2 separate regions of the Homo sapiens genome follow, and region 1 is linked to region 2. A link means that fine-mapping ties the variant in region 2 to the expression of a gene that starts in the linked region. Tissue or cell type: whole blood. Region 2 holds a variant in brackets; the other region holds the start of a gene. All regions are shown on one strand. Distances are from middle to middle.

Region 1 (8,091 bases), 53 kb before region 2:
GTGTTCCCTCTGCCTGCAGTGCTCCTGCCCAGGCCTTTAGAAGGTCAGCTCCTCTTCCTCGTTCCCCTCCTGGCTCAGACACCACTTTCTTGGAGAAGGCTTCCTGGAGTGTCCTCCCTTCCTCCCAGTGAGTACCTCTTGTAGGGCTTCTCAAAGCGTAATCCTGGATCAGCAGCGTCAGTGTCATCTGAGAACTTGCTAAAAACGGGAATTCCTTCGCTTTACCACAGACCCACTGGACCAGAAGCTCTGGGACTGAGCCCTGCAATCTATCCCTGAATGAGCCTTCCCGGCAATTCTGAGGCATCTGAGGTTTGAGAAGCACCATTCTATCATGTCATCAGATGATCACATTCTGACTCTTCCCATCCTTTGTCGTCGTTCGCTTATTTGTGATTTATCTGTCTCTTTTCACTAGACCATAAGTTCAATCATGGTGGGGACTTCGTAATACTCTTCTAGTATATCTCCAATATGTTGGACAGTGCTTGGTATTTGATAGGTATTTTTTTTGAATAAGTGAAAGAATAAATGGATGGATGGATGGTCAAACTAGGAGAGTGAGGAGAAATGCATTAAGGGTAATGCTTTCCTGGATTAAAGGTAATGCATTTTCTCTGGGACCAGTTGAATTTAAGGAGCTGGTGGGATCTCATGGGGCCGATGTAGGTGGCAATGTCACCGTTTATTCCTTATCAGTTACTTTACTCCCCGGGAGTGATCTAAATAATAACATGGGGCAGGGTTCCAGGCTGCGGTGACTTGGGAGATACCTGTTCTCAGGCAGAGGGGAGAATTCTGAGCTCAGAGGGTCCCAGTCCAGTCAGAGGAGAAGCCAAGTGGTCAGAGCAACTCCTCAGTCCCTCACTGCTAGGAGATGCTGCTTCCTTGGCTGCACAGTGGCGCTAGCATGAGGCAGAGGGAGAAAGCAATCATGAAACCCCTGGAAGAGGATCTTTAGAGGGACAGTATAGGCCAGGCATGGTGGCTCATGCCTATAATCCCAGCACTTTGGGAGGCTGAGGCCGGAAGATCACTTGAGCCTAGGAGTTCAAGACCAGCCTGGGCAACATGGTGAAACTCTGTCTCTACAAAAAATAAAATAAAATAAAATTAGCTGGGCTTGGTGTTGCATGCCTATAGTTCTGGCTACTCAGGAGGCTGAGGCTGGAGGATCACTTGAGCCCAGAAGTTTGAGGCTGCAGTGAGCTATGATCACACCACTGCACTTCAGCTTGGGTGAGCGACAGAGCAAGACCCTTTCCCTCTTAAAAAAAAAAAAAAAGACGTTATAAACAGCGCTTGCATCATACATGGGCAAAGGGAAGGGGAGAGAGAGAGAAACAGAAAGAGTGTATCAGAGGGAGTATAGCATAGTTCTTTTAATAGAATGGGACTAATAAAGACAGTTATGCGGTGCCTGCTTCCCTTTTCCCCAATGTCTCCTAACTCCTCTGGGGACTTCTGCTCCCTCACCAGAATGACCGTGGTGACCCTCAGCAGTGCCCTGTGCTCACCAGAGGGTGAAGCATAGACTGGTGTATGACAGGGGTGAGCGTGCCAGGGCACTGGTGGAGGAAAGCCTGCTCCCTGAGCAACATGCCCCACCCTGCTCCAGTGGCCTAGGGAGGGGAAGAGAGATGCCCTGCTGGGTCAGAGGGGGAGGAGCAGGGCCTGAACAGTCCAGTCTGGGATCCAGCCAGGGGAGCTCTGCTGGCTAAGAAAGAGGAGAGGAGCTGGAGATATTTATCTGGTCCTGCTCACAGAAAGCTCAGACTCAGGGGGCCTGGCTCCGCACCTGGCATTCTAGGTCCTGTCTTGCTCATCAGCTGTTAGTCACCTCACATCTGTCACTACAGCCAGGCTGGCTCCTAAGTGCCCACCTACCATGCTCCATGCTTTTCACTTCCAGCCTTTGTTGGTGACAGCTCACCCCTGCCACCAGCTGTTCTTATTGCTCTGTCCTGCTACACTGTAGATTCCTGGAAGGTGAAGAGGGAGCCTGATTTCTCTCTAGGTCCCTTGTAACACCTCCCCAGGGCTGGTATAGAATTGTGCTCCATGAAGCGGCATTAAGCAACTACATAAGCTTAGGTCTCCCCTTCCCTGATGGAGCTCCCTCTCCACCCTCAACCCTCCTCTTCTGAACATTTGCTGTGCTGCCTTCATTCCCCTCCTTCAGCACGGAAGCCCTGAATTCTGTCTACCCGCTTGGGCACTGACTCCTCGCAGCCCAGCACAGAGCTTGTCACACAATGGACTGGTTGATGGAGGATGTCCTTCTTTATCCTGCCCCATCCCCCAGAAGTACACACAATGGATCTGGAGAAGGGCAGAGCCCATGGGAGAGAGGCCAGTTCAATCCCCTGCCTTGTCCACCAGGGGCTAGCATACCACACGCATGCCTGTCCCTGCTGCCATGGCCTTCTTTCCCTCCTCTGACCCTTCTACGACCCTGGACCCCTGCAGGATTGGCCTGGAGGAGAGGCCAAGGGCAGGTGAGGAAGAGTGTATGGGTTCCCAGGCGGCCTGCCACCTCCCTGTGACTCCCATCTCTTGAATTCCCCCAATCATACTGGCTCTGCCTCCTCCTGCTGAGTTCCCATTGTCCCCTACCCCCACCCTCCCCAACCCAGGCCAGTGGCTGGGTCCCGCCCCTACCTTCGATGGGGGAGTTGATGAGGATGACGCGTCCCATGGGCGATGAGGCTCGGATTCCGCGGGGGGGCCCGTTCAGCAGCCGTTGTTGCTTCCTTAGCAGGTATCGCGTTGCGGTGGAGCCTGAGTCGCTGCCTAGGTGGCCTCGGGAGGAGAGGGAGCTCAGAGAGCCGGAGCTCAGGTCTCCTAGGCCCAGTGGGTCGAAGCCCACTGCGAAACCCTGCGCCATGGCGGCTGGGCTAGGGCGGCACCCTACAGGTCCAGAAGGAATCTGCTAGCTCTGGAGAGGCCAGCCCTGCGTGCTTCGAGCTCCATGAGCCTCTGTGCGGGGCTGGGGTCTCAGTAACGTGAAGGCCCTCGCTTGCGATGCCTCTCAGAAGTGTGAGCTCCAGGCCTGGGCAGGGAGAGCAGGGATGAGGGAGGGGTGTAAATGTTTCCCCTGCTGCCCCCTAAAACTTCCACCCCTCCCCCTGGTTTAAGCATCCTGCCCTCCCATGCCTTAGGCCCCCCTCCTGTCTCACCCTAGGCCAGAGAACTGCCCCGTCCAGGCACCATCTTGGACTCTCGCTGACTTTATACAAGGCAGGTGGGAACCTTTCACCCCTCATTCCTGCTCGGGGCTGAGTCATCTACTCCCGTCCCCAGTCCTCAGTAGAGGTTGAGAGTGGAGTTGGGATTACTGCGGGCCCTGGGGCTTAGAGAGGTGTGAGACAAAAGAGAGGTCAGGACAGCTCATGGCATCACCTCTCTCATGCATATGCGGGCATGGAGGTGGCCCGGGGTGGGGCGGGGGCTGCGTGGGGCGGGCTGGGCCTCGAGGATAGGGCTTCAGGACCTTAGACAGCTGAGGCCCAGGAAGACCCCCAGACACCCGCGGGCTCCAGGCTGCGGCTCCGGGTCTAAAGAGGCTGCATGAACCTCTCCCAAGCTTTGGGGAGGATCTGCTGGAGAGGGGTCCCACGACATCCCGCGCAAAACCCAGGGCCAGTTCCCTCAGAGAAGCTCTGGGACCTAGAATGAAGCACCCCAACATCAACTCGGCCCTCCAGGCCCCCCACCCCTTTGTGCCTGGTCGGCCTCACCTGGTCGCTGGTGTGGCGCCGCCAGCCTTGTCAAACCACCCGCAGGCGAGAGCTACTGCCGCAGCCGGCAAACCCCACCCACGCTGCGCGGAGGCTGCGGGAATTGGGCTGGCCTGCACCGCCCCGGGCTCCCATTGGCTGGTAGGGCCGCCAGTCATTCTATTCCGGCACCTCCCTTAGGCGCCAGGGACAGCCGAGCGTTACCTGGTCCCGGGCAGCGGAGTTCTTTACCCACCCCAGTTCTGGTTCTGACGCCCTAGCTCATTCCGCAAATTTAGGGCTTGGGTCTGGCTTGTTCCCCTCCGGCTCGAACCACCTCTTCTCTGAGCCGAGCCAGCTACCGGGGCTCCTGGAATTGCCACCCCTCCCTGGGCACCCTTGAGGCCTCCGTGGAGGGACGTCACGGGGCAGAGCGGGACGTGAGCCTGAGTTTGCTGCAGGCGTGCTCTGTGTGGTGGCTGGGTGAGTTGTGAGTATGTGCGTGGCGGAGGGGGTGCCTTCTTCACTTGCATCCTCCTCCTCTGTCAGAAGGCGTCTCTGGCTACCCAGTTCTGGAATGGTCGCAGGGTGGGGCAGCTGGTCCCAGGACCGGAAGAATCCTAAGAATCCTTCTGATGCACTTGCTCGGATGCAGACCGCGAGGTTCCTGGGGTCGTCTGCCCCTCCACATCTCAGGGGTGGGGCTACGGTCTGGGGTGCAGGGCTAGGGGTTGGGAGCGTAAGGAGACCAGGGACACAGTGGAGCTAGGGGTTACAGAGGGGGAGCAGGGAGAGGGCTGGGGACATAGAAGAGGCACAGGCACGACAGGAACGGGGCTGTGAAGTGATGCGAATGCCGCGCTGCTACAAGAGGAGCTTGTGGATACTGGGGTAGGAGCCCAGGGGGACAAGCAAGCCAAAGGCCATTGCCAAGGCAGCCATCAAGTAAACAAGCCAGGCGGTAACCCGAGTCCCTCCCGGCGCGCCAGCAGAGGACCGCCCCTCCACACCGCCCACCTGCGCCCGGGGCTTTCTCTCTGGGCACCTAGACCGCTTGCTGCAGGGCTGGGGGTCTGCTGAGGCCCGCCAGGGGACTGTAAACCAAGGGAGCAGCGCCCGCGGCTCCAGCCCCTCCTCCCTTTGGCTGGGGAGGGGGCCAGAACTGATCCCCGAGGTGGGATTGGCTCTGGGAAGCAGCTTAGGGCCTGGTCCAGGTGGCCCAGGCTGGGGGCATCGCCTCGAATGACACCCACCGCCCTCAGGTTCTGCCAATCCCCGTGCCCACCGGGTGGGCGCGGCCGGGAAGCTCCTGCCCCTCCCTGCTGGTCGGCGTCACGCGTGACGTCCCGCGTGATGGCTGGGAGGGCCCGGCGGCGACAGCGGAGGCAGAGAGGAAGGCGGTTCTGAGAGCTTCAGAGAGCGATGGAAAGCGTAAGTGCTCGCTCTCCCCGGCGGGCGGGGTTCTGGAATGGGGGTCAGAGAAGGAGGCCTGCCTTGAAACTGTCTGTCCTGGTGCAGTCAATGTCCTCGGCTCTGTGGAGGTCCAAGTCCACAGGGCACAAGGGAGGTTGGGGGGAGGAATGTCAGGGTGGGGCTGTGTGTAGTCACACATTCAAGTGTCTGCAGATGGGCACAGTGTGCGCCTGTAAAGGTGTTTGAAGGCCGGTGTATACAGGACACCTCCACTCTGTCTGTATGTCTGGGCAGGGTGTGCATGATAGTGTCTTTGTGTGTGGGTATGTGAGTGTGAGGGGAGGGCGTCTCTGCCTCTGCGGGAGGAAGTGTGGCTGGAGAGGATTAGTCATTCTGTAGGATTCTGCCCAACTCAGCCAGATGGCTGCACCAGGCTTTCCTCTCTGTGCTGGGTGGAGGGAGCAGCCACTGAATCCTGCTCTTATCCGGAGGCAAGTGGCCCAGAGAGAGGTGGATGAGTGTCTGTGCCAGCCCTGCCTGGCCAGGGACCAGGGAGAGCCTGGGGTCATTCAGTGTGAGTTGGAGAAAAATGGGTCTGTAGAGAGGACTTGTGCGTGCCCACATGCACACACATGGCTGACATCAGAGTCCCCTGATTGAGATCTGGAACAGATAAGCCCTGGGTGGCCAGTAAGGCCTTGCTCTCCTCCAATCAGGGACTGGAGTGTGGGATGTCTTGTGCCATTTTCCAAAACAGCCTTGGGGGTTTGTATCCAGGTCTCAGTGCAGCTGGGGCCTAAAGCTCACCTGAGCATGGGTGTGTAATATATATATTATATATTCTTGTGCATCTGTAGCACACGTGGCTGGGATGTTTGTTGCTGCTTATGTGTCAACCACATATATGTAAATCCTCACTCATGAAAATCTGTACCAGGATAGAGCACAAGGAGATCTGTTTTCCTGTTTCTGGTCTTCCCTTCCCCCTCCTCCAGTGGCTGCAGGTCCCTGGGCTGGGACATTGCCCAGGAAACAGCTCCTCCCCACACCCTTGCTTACCTACCTAGTTGAAGGGGTGGCCTGCCCCTCCACACCTGTGGGTATTTCTAGTAGGGTGGGACAAGAGACTGAGAAAAGAAATAAGACACAGAGACAAAGTATAGAGAAACAACAGTGGGCCCAGGGGACCGGCGTTCAGCATACCAAGGATCTGCACCGGCACCGGTCTCTGAGTTCCCTCAGTTTTTATTGATTATTATTTTCATTATTTCAGCAAAAAGGAATGTAGTAGTAGAGCAGGTTGATAATAAGGAGAAGGTCAGCAAAAAACATGTGAGCAAAAGAATCTATGTCATAATTAGGTTCAAGGGAAGGTACTATGCCTAGATGTGCATGTAAGCCAGATTTATGTTTCTCTCCACCCAAACATCTCAGCGGAGTAAAGAATAACAAGGCAGCATTACTGCAAACATATCTCACCTCCCACCATAGGGCGGTTTTTCTCCTATCTCAGAATTGAACAAATGTGCAATCGCGTTTTATATGGAGACATTCAGTTCCCAGGGGCAAGCAGGAGACAGTGGCCTTCCTCTATCTCAACTGCAAGAGGCTTTCCTCTTTTACTAATCCACCTCAGCACAGACCCTTTATGGGTGTCAAGCTGGGGGACGGTCAGGTCTTTCTCATCCCACGAGGCCATATTTCAGACTATGCATGGGAAGAAACCTTGGACGATACCCCGCTTTCAAGGGCAGAAGTCCCTGTGGCTTTCCGCAGTTAATTGTGCCCCTGGTTTATTGAGACTAGAGAATGGCAATGACTTTTACCAAGTATACTGCTTGTAAACATTTTGTTAACAAGGCACGTCCTGCACATCCCTAGATCCCTTAAACCTTGATTTTATACAACACATGTTTTTGTGAGCTCCAGATTGGGTCAAAGTGCTGGGGCAAAGTGGCTGGGGCAAAGCTACAAATTAACAACATCTCAGCAAAGCAATTGTTTAAAGTACAGGTCTTTTTCAAAATGGAGTCTCTTATGTCTTTCCTTTCTACATAGACACAGTAACAGTCTGATCTCTCTTTCTTTTCCCTACATCTAGTCACCTTGAGCTCTTGAAGGGACTGATGATAAGCTCAGGGGCCAGGGCAGGGGCACCAAAGATTTCCCCTAGCTGGAGCCCTTGGACCCTTGGACTCCCGCTCTGACCCTTATCTCTGTCCTGCAGAAAATGGGTGAATTGCCTTTAGACATCAACATCCAGGAACCTCGCTGGGACCAAAGTACTTTCCTGGGCAGAGCCCGGCACTTTTTCACTGTTACTGATCCTCGAAATCTGCTGCTGTCCGGGGCACAGCTGGAAGCTTCTCGGAACATCGTGCAGAACTACAGGTGACCACCCCTCAATCTGACCCTGTGTGCCAGGATCTCATTTTCTGTGATTAATATAATATGTTTTGTACCTGCCTCCTCAAGCTTGACAGTGACCCTGTCCCTCAATCCCCTCACTCTCTAGCCCCGTCTGTTGGCATCACAGAGCTTTAACCCAAAGGATTTTAGGGCATTTGGGTTGAGAAGATGGCATTGATATTTATGGGAGGGGCTGCTCTATGCATCACAAACCTCTACAGGGATCTATCCCATTGCGGGGTCACCCTCTGCAAGGATAGAGGTGCTCAAAGTGGAGTCCCAGGAAGATAGGAGGGAAATCCCCTTATCTTTGGGAGGAAAAACTCTTGCAATGCTTGCAGCCATTTTTGACCCACTGGAAACCACCATCATCCCTGACCCAGCATTTTGGCAGAAACAGAAGGGTACCCCTCTTTGTGTGGCTATAAGGGAAATAGAAATAGGAGCCTCCACTTCTGGGAAACTTTGGCCCTCTCCCAAAGATAAGGAGCTTCCTTATGCTGAGACTGGGGGCTGAAGTTCCTGGTTCTCTGTCCAGAGTTACCCTGAG
Region 2 (8,102 bases):
AGTCAGTCGTGGGAATAAGGCTTTTAACAGAGGTTTGGTGGGATAGGCTTCTTGGGGTGCTTAAATAACTTTTCTTTTTTTGAGACAAGGTCTCACTCTGTCACCCAGGATGGAGTGCAGTGGCACGATCATGGCTAACTTCAGCCCCGACTTCCCAGGCTCAGGTGATCCACCCACCTCAGCCTCCTGTGTAGCTGAGACCACCAGCACACACCATCATGCCCAGCTAATTTTTTGTAGAGATGGGGTTTCACCATGTTGCCCAGGCTGGTCTCTCCCTCCTGGGATCAAGCGATCCACCCATCTTGGCCTCCCAAAGTGCTGGGATTACAGACGTGAACCACTGTGCCCAGCCTAAATAACTTTTCTTGAGGGATTCCTGGGGTGAAGTACCTGGTGGTGAAGAATCAGAAGCCAGGCCCTGTCCCTGGGATTAAGGACAAGGAATGAGAAGGAAGAGGGAGGAATAAGAGGAAGGGAACAAGAAGGAAAAGGAAAAGGTGTTTTGAAGAATGAGGAATGTTTAGCAGGGAAGAAGAGGGAAAAGCGGAGGGACCTGGAAGTTTGGTGATCCTTGAAATAGTGGGGGTGCTGTCCTTGGTCCTGACTGACAAAGGGCCCACGAATAGCCCAGACGGAGTGCCTACCCCAAACTCCCTGCAATTTCCCATGAAGGTGACCAGATGATTTTGGAGGAAGAACAAAGAGCTAGAGCTGCATCTGATGGGAACTGAATCCACAGGCCTGGCTTCGCTCTCACACCTTCTCCTTCTCCTACCTTTCCCCAAAGCAACTCCCTGTTTAATAAATGCTCCTTGCAAGAGGTAGACAGTTGTGGGCTCAGAGGAGATCTGGGCAGGACTCCTGGGGAAGGGTGCAGGTACCTGTGCCCTGAAGACCCCTGGCCTAAGTCCCTCCTCATGAGATAAGTTGGCTGGAAAGTGGAGGTGCCCTAAGGTGGGAGTACTGGCCTGATCAGATTAAAAGCAACCAGATCCTGCTAAAAGCCTGGATTGACATTATGCTTCCACTTTCTCTCCTGTTCCTTTGCAGAACTTGAATACCAACACCATTTTTCCCTCCTTTAAAAAATTGTATGTAACAAGCTGTTCACAGGCAGGCCTTGCACAGATGGGGGTTTAATCAGCTACAGTCTAAGCACACAAGCATTCCAGCCTAATTCAATTCCTGTCAGTTCATTAGGGGAAATATTCATCACCCAGAGATTACAGCAGGGCCAAAACTCTGAATGGATTCTAAAGAGCTGTCAGTGGAGTAGCAACTGCACCAGCCTATGCAGGGGGCCATATTGTGTGGAGGGTGTCTGGCAGCCCTGGCCATGCTCTGAGACCCCTGATCCTACCGGGCTTCTTCACAGGGACTCTGTTTTGAGAATCACTGTTTTGCAGACCTCAAGGCAAGGCACTGAGGGGGAAGATAAGAGAGAAATACAACTGCATTTGGGAGTCCCTATTTAAAGGGGACATGGAGGCTCCTCCTTTTAGGGAGCCTCTAGTCCAATGGGGGAGACGTGGCTTCCACCCTCCGGAGTGCTCTCTGAGTTCTCTGAAGACTGCTGACTTATAAATGATTAGACTTTTCTTTCTTTTTTTTTTTTTTTTTTTTTTTGAGATAGAGTCTTACTCTGTTACCCAGACCGGAGTGCAGTGGTGCAATCTCTGTTCACTGCAACCTCCGCCTCCTGGGTTCAAGAGATTCTTCTGCCTCAGCCTCCTAAGTAGCTGGGATTACAGGCACCTACCACTATGCCCGGCAACTTTTTGTATTTTTAGTAGAGATGGGGTTTCACCATGTTGGCCAGGCTGGTCTCAAACTCCTGACCTCAAGTGATCCACCCACCTCAGCCTCCCAAAGTGCTGGGATTACAAGTGTGAGCCACCATGCCCGGCTGATTAGACATTTTTGTCCTAAAATCTCTAGCAAGAAATTACCTCCTCACAAAGGCACAGGTGGGAGTATGATTCCCACCAGTTCCTGCAGTTAAATTGGAGCAGAAGCTGGAAATAGAAGTCAGGGCACAGACTCAAGACCATGGGACGCTATTACTTTTCTTGTGCCATGGGAGCCTAGGTCAGGTGAACCTGGGCGGTGGAGGTAAGGGATCTCTTCCAGGTTGGATTTTCCCAAATAGATGAGACCCTCAATATCAAGTGACCTTAACCATCTCGTATGGAGAGGCTTGAGTATTTCCCTGTGTGTAGTTTCTGCCCACATCCCTATATGAAGCGTAGGAAGCTTGTTTGTTGATCACCTCTGGCTTTCCCAGGGCTATCCTCTGCCTCCCATTTTTCTCTTGTCCTCCCTGGTGGTGGTGCGGAAGTCTTGCCTTGGATGGTTCACTAATCCTAGGGTGTCTGAACCAAAGGCAAGGCACTCACAGGGCTAGACTTTGGCCTCAAAGCCCATAGTGCTTCCTGCCATCCCGTTTCTAGGCTTCAGCCCTAGACATGTCCTCTGGACTGAGGAGAGCTGGTCACCTGTGAGGTCTATTTCCTCTGCCTAGGTCTTCTGCCCTTTTGCTCACCTGGGCTAAGACGGAGAATGGGAGAGAAGAAACACGGAGCATGTGGCCTACCCTCCCATGTGGGTGAGGGAGAGCTTCCTGCAGCTGAGACCCGAAAGATAACTGTGAGGTACCAGTTGAGGGGCTGGGGAGGATTTTTGCCCTCACTGAGCCCCTGTGCTCCCTAGACTTCTTTCCCAGACTCCTGAAACCCATTCTTGGCTCAGAGTCCTTCAGTCAGTCTCCATGAGCCCTACCCCTCCACCCACAGCCTGCCCAGCATCCGGCTTCCTAGGGAGTCCCTCGGCTCTGAGACTACATCAGGACAATATTCCACAGGGATTCAGTTGGAAGACTTCTGACCTGGAGGGTGGGGTCTGGCTGTTTCTCAAAGGGAGCGACCAAAGCCTAGAAGGCACATAGGCTCTGCCACTCTCAGGCCCATCTCCTTAGGAAGGAATCAGGGACAGCAATAAGAACCCAGAACAAAGGGCCAGGAGGCTGATAGAGGGGACAAGATCCAGGTCAGAAACAAAAACTCAGCTTAGCCACAGTGATGCTTGAGAGTTATGAGATGGCTGGGGAGATCCACAAGCACCTTTTCATTGGGCACAGGTATAACCTACCTTGAACTTGGGACCTGGAGCCAGGTCCTGACACTGAATGGGCAGTTATAATCTACTTGGGAGCCTGGCTAGAAACCTTGTTTTCCCACTTACTAGCTAGGGAATCTTTGGTGAGCCACTTTTTTTGTTTTGTTTTGTTTTTTTATTTTATTTTATTTTATTGA[G/A]ATGGAGTCTCCCTCTGTCATCCAGGCTGGAGTGCAGTGGCGTGATCTCGGCTCATTGCAACCTCCGCTTCCTGGGTTCAAGTGATTCTCCTGCCTCAGCCTTCCAAGTAGCTGGGACTACAGGCATGCGCCACCACACCTGGCTAATTTTTGTATTTTTATTAGAGACAGGGTTTGACCATGTTGGCCAGGCTGGTCTCGAACTCTTGAACTCAAGCTATCGGCCTGCCTCAGCCTCCCAAAGTGCTGGAACTACAGGCATGAGCCACCATGCCCGTCCTGTTTTGTTTTTTAGACAGAGAGTCTTGCTCTGTCACCCAGGCTGGAGTGCGGTGGTGTAACCATAGCTCACTGCAGCCTTGAACTTCTGGGCTCAAGTGATCCTCCCATCTCAGCCTCCCAGGTAGTTAGGACTTCGGACATGTGTCACCACACCTGGCTCATTAAAAAAAATTTGGGGGAGCCAAACATGTTAGCTCATGCCTGTATTCCCAGTGCTTTGTGAGGCAGAGGTGGGAGGACTGCTTGAAGCCAGGAGTTTGAGACTATCCTGGACAACATAACAAGACCCTATCTCTACCAAAAAATAAAAAATAAAAATTAGCTTGCTGCAGTGGTGTGCACCTCTGTGCACCTGCAGTGGTGCGCAGTGGTGTGCACCTCTCAGCTACTCAAGAGGCTGAGGTGGGAGGACTGCTTAAGCCTGAGAGTTTGAGGCTGCAGTGAGCTGTGATTGCACCACTGCACTCCAGCCTGGGTGACAGAGCAAGACCCTGTCTCTAAAAATAATAAAATAAATTTTATTAAATACATACCAAATTTTATTTCAAGGAACTGGTTGATGCAATTGTGTGGGTTGGCTAAGTAAGTCTGATATCTGTAGGGCAAGCAGTCAGGAAGGAAAGATCAGGAACAAGCTGGAACCCCCTGGGTGCTAGCAAAGCTGCTGTCCACAGGCAGTCGGGATGGGAGAACCTAGCAAAGGGAGAACAATTCTACACCAAGCTGCTGTTTGGAGCATCCTTCATCAGGGAGAGCCCTGACCCTTTACAGGCTCATCTGACTAGGTCAGGCCCATGGAGGATAACCTCCCTCACTTAAAGCCAACTGATTAGGGACTTTGATTACATCCTCAAAGCCCCTTTACAGCAGGACCTAGATTAGTGTTTATTGAGTACCTGGGAGAAGGTGTGCGGAAGCTGCAAAATGCCTGCTTTGTTTTGGGAGGCTGAGGAGGGCAGATCACATGAGGCCAGGAGTTTGAGACCAGCCTGATCAACATGGCAAAACCTTGTCTCTACTAAAAATACAAAAATTAACCAGGTGTGGTAGTGCACATCTGTAATCTCAGCTACTCGGAAGGCTGAGGCAGGAGAATTGCTTGAACCTGGGAGGTGGAGGTTCAAGTGGCTTGAACTCCACCTGGGAGGTGGAGTGCAGTGGCTTGATCTCGGCTCACTGCACTCCAGCCTGGGTGAACCTATCTGACAGGATTCTAGCCATTGAGAAGATGGGGCACCTCTTCCTTAGCAAAGGGAGGCTAAGGAGATCCCATCCTGAGTTTCCCATGGTCAGAAGTAAGTGTGTCTCTATGGGACTCCTGGGGCTTGTGGACATGGTGTAGGATGGGGAGAACCTCAGGATTAACCAGCACTCTTGGGGGTCCCCTGCTCTGGCTTTTTGGGGCCACCAGAGCCAGAGCTACAGTGGCAGTTGATGGGAATAGCCCTCAGTGACCAGTGGGGCTTCAGCAGGTAATTACCCGGCAAAAGCTGGGAACTGACAGGGTAATTATTAGCTTCTAATTGCAGGGCAAACTCAGGCCGGGATCCTTCTCTCCAAAGCAGAGGGCATTACTATTTGCATAGCAATTAATTACTTTGGGAGCTACGGAATTTAATTACCCACTAGTCCACAGGAGCCAATAATTAAATTACTCTCAGAAACAGGGTATTTATTTCCCAGTTAGTGTGAGCAGGTAGCTCTTCCTTTGGGGGGTGTGCCTGGGTGATGACCCCTAAACCGATTGCTGGTCCTTGGCCTGAGCAGGCAAAGAGTGGTGACCACGGTGCCCAGCAGGGAGTGCCCGCACCTTGATGAGGACGGACACCCAAGCATACACAGATACAGGCCCTTGTAGGGCATGCAGACACATGATACCATGTGCTAGCCATGACTCATGGACTGGCGTTTGGATGTACAGTAACTCATTGTAAGTGGGGCACACACACTCAGCGAGAATTACACACATGGTGAGGAACAGGCAAAGAGGCCAAAGAGGGAATTTTGGCTCTATCATTTTGCCACTATTGTTTTGCCTAACTTGCATCAAAATGTGTTTGTGGTACTATGTACTTTGGTCAACAGGCTGTGGTTCTGAGCCCATATGGAATCCATCTTCATCCCTGATGCCTCTCAAAATGGGGTTTGGGTTGGGAGGGCCTCAGGACAGAGTAGGCGCTAGGGAGGGGCTGGCACTGTCTATTTTGAACATCAATTGATTTTTTTGTTTTTTGAGAGGGACTCTCACTTTGTTGCCCAGGCTGGAGTGCAGTTGTGCAATCTTGGCTCACTGCAACCTCCATCTCCCTAATTGAAGCAATTCTCATGCCTCAGCTTCCCGAGTAGCTAGGATTACAGGCACCCACCCACCACACCCAGCTACTTTTTTTTGTTTGTTTTTGGTAGAGAGACAGGGTTTCACCATGTTGGCCAGGCTGGTCTCGAACTCCTGACCTCAAGTGATCTTCCCACCTCAGCCTCCCAACATGCTGGGATTACAGGCGTGAGCCACCATGCCTGGCCACATAACTTGATTTTTTAAAATCCTGAAAGTTTAATGTTTTTGCATCAAAATGGCCATGCCAAAATGTCATATATGCCTGAGAGACAGGAGTTGATAGAAGACCCTGAGGTCTGGAGGAACCTAGAGACTTCCAAATAGAAAGCAGCCCCTTGAAGCAGAGCTGTGTTGGGTCCAGCATTTACTCTCCCTCTTCATAGAAAACAGGGTCCCAGAAGGAGGCATGAAGGGATGGGGTGTGTCTGGGTTAGCTTGCCCAGTGTCAGGACCTCCAGTCCTGAAGGAGAAAGCCCAGAGCTGGGTGGTGTCTGCCAGGTCCGCTCTCCCCGAAGTCCACTCCTCGCCTTCCTTGGCGTTGCTTCCCATTGGCTGCCTGGGGGCAGTGGTCAGAGGTAACTGAGGCAATGTGGTTTTCACCTCTATCTACTTAGAGAGTATGGGAAGTCCCTGGCCCTGGAGCTGGGGATTCTAGTGTTAGAGGCAGCCTTGCTGCTTGGTGGGTTGCCCATTCCTCTGGGCTGGTGGGCCCAGGTCTTTGTGCACTGCTCCCAATAAGGAAGGGCAGAAGAATGGGGCCCGCTTCCCTTGTTCTCCACTCCCTTCATCCTGAAGGTGTCTCAGGCAGGTCAAGTGGGCACTGGTTATTCTGTGGTTATCTTCCTTCCTCCTTTTCCCCAGGTGACTATGGAACCCCTCGCATGTGCAGGTCCAGAGCCAGGCCACCGCACAGCCCCACTGCCCCATCCCAACTGATGTCAGCTCCCAGCCCCTGACCCCTTGGAATTCCCCTCCAAAGCCTAGAGCTGAGTCCCTGTCGCCATCCTTCCAGCTTAGCCTTGGGCCCTTCCCAGGTGGGATCCTGTAGATGCTTCTAATGAAGTTCTCTCTGACTCTGTTTGGGGCACCCACCACCCGTGGAAAGGAGCGGCGGCCGCCCCGGCCCAGGCTGCTGACAGCAGCAATCCATCTCCATCACAGTAATGGCGTCCCCATTAATCGGCCATAAACTAATAAAGCAATCACTTTCCACCCCTCACCCCCCCGCCCCAACTTCATTAAGTCTTTAGTACATTAATATGTCTTACTTAGTGTCAGCCAAGCCTCTTTCTCTGTTTGGGGTGGAGCATGCTGGGGTGGGCACCTCGCCCGGTGGGTGGGGGCACATGACCCCTCTCCTGGTCTGGGTAGGGGGCTGCTGACTCAGGGCAACCCACTCCCCCTCTCCCTCCTTCCTCTCCACCCACTGTCCCCTTGAGGGCCTTGAAAGGCTGCAGAGAAGAGGAAGAGCGAGAGGAACAGGAAACTGTGGAGCAGGAGAGAGGAGGAAACGGGAAAGGAAAAGGAAGGAGGAAGACGGGATGAGCTGGGGAGGAAGGGGGGAAGCTGGGAGGAAGGGGGAGACGGAATGGGGGAGGAGCTGTGCACCTCCAAATTAAATTTGTGATTCAGGCATCAGATGGGCCGACAGCCAGAGATTAATTCAACTGATCGAGTTATAAAGAGCGGGAGGCCTGGGTAATCAATCTTGCAGCTGTCAGGCCGACAGGCAGGAGTATTAACCTGGCGAGACGGCACGTACCCAGGACTTTTTCATTTCATTCACCCCAACCATGTCCCTGACCACCTCTGGTCTGTCTCTCCAAGTAATAATAATTACGGCTGTTAACGATGACAGAGACAGGATGAGGGGACGGGCTCCTGCGGCAGGGCTTCCTCTCCCGGAGCTCCCACCCACTGCTCCTCTGACCACTCCCAGAAGGTAGAGCAAGGACCAGCTCATGGCACTCTTTGAGAGGTGGGGAAATCGAGGCAGGAATTCCAAAAAGACCTTCAGACAGGCCAGAGGTGGGGCTGGAAAGGTACTTTGGGATAAAGGACAGTGCCCTAGATCCCTCTCAACTCTCGGGAAAAGAATTGTCCTTAAGTCAGCCAGCTTGGCCCCAACACGTTCAGCTGTGGCCAGGGAAGCTGGAATCAGGAAGGTG

What was found. PIP is the estimated chance that this variant, and not a neighbour inherited with it, causes the effect.
Region 1: SFXN3 starts here. The variant in region 2 is fine-mapped to the expression of SFXN3 in whole blood (INTERVAL, PIP 0.97).

What each region holds. Positions count from the first base shown.
Region 1 is chr10:101,027,333-101,035,423 of GRCh38, forward strand. It overlaps SFXN3 (sideroflexin 3), which reads left to right and starts at 3,902. Exons shown (of 12, transcript NM_030971.6): 1 at 3,902-4,202; 2 at 4,982-5,150; 3 at 7,360-7,523. The coding sequence starts at 7,363. PDZD7 (PDZ domain containing 7) reads right to left here and starts at 3,797. Exons shown (of 17, transcript NM_001195263.2): 1 at 3,741-3,797; 2 at 2,662-3,052. The coding sequence starts at 2,887. RefSeq lists an enhancer at 4,215-4,424.
Region 2 is chr10:101,080,543-101,088,644 of GRCh38, forward strand. No RefSeq gene overlaps it. Among named protein-coding and RNA genes, the nearest start is that of KAZALD1, 23 kb to the left of the region's middle. RefSeq lists silencers at 450-744, 517-717. The variant G/A (reference allele first, on the strand shown) is at 3,315.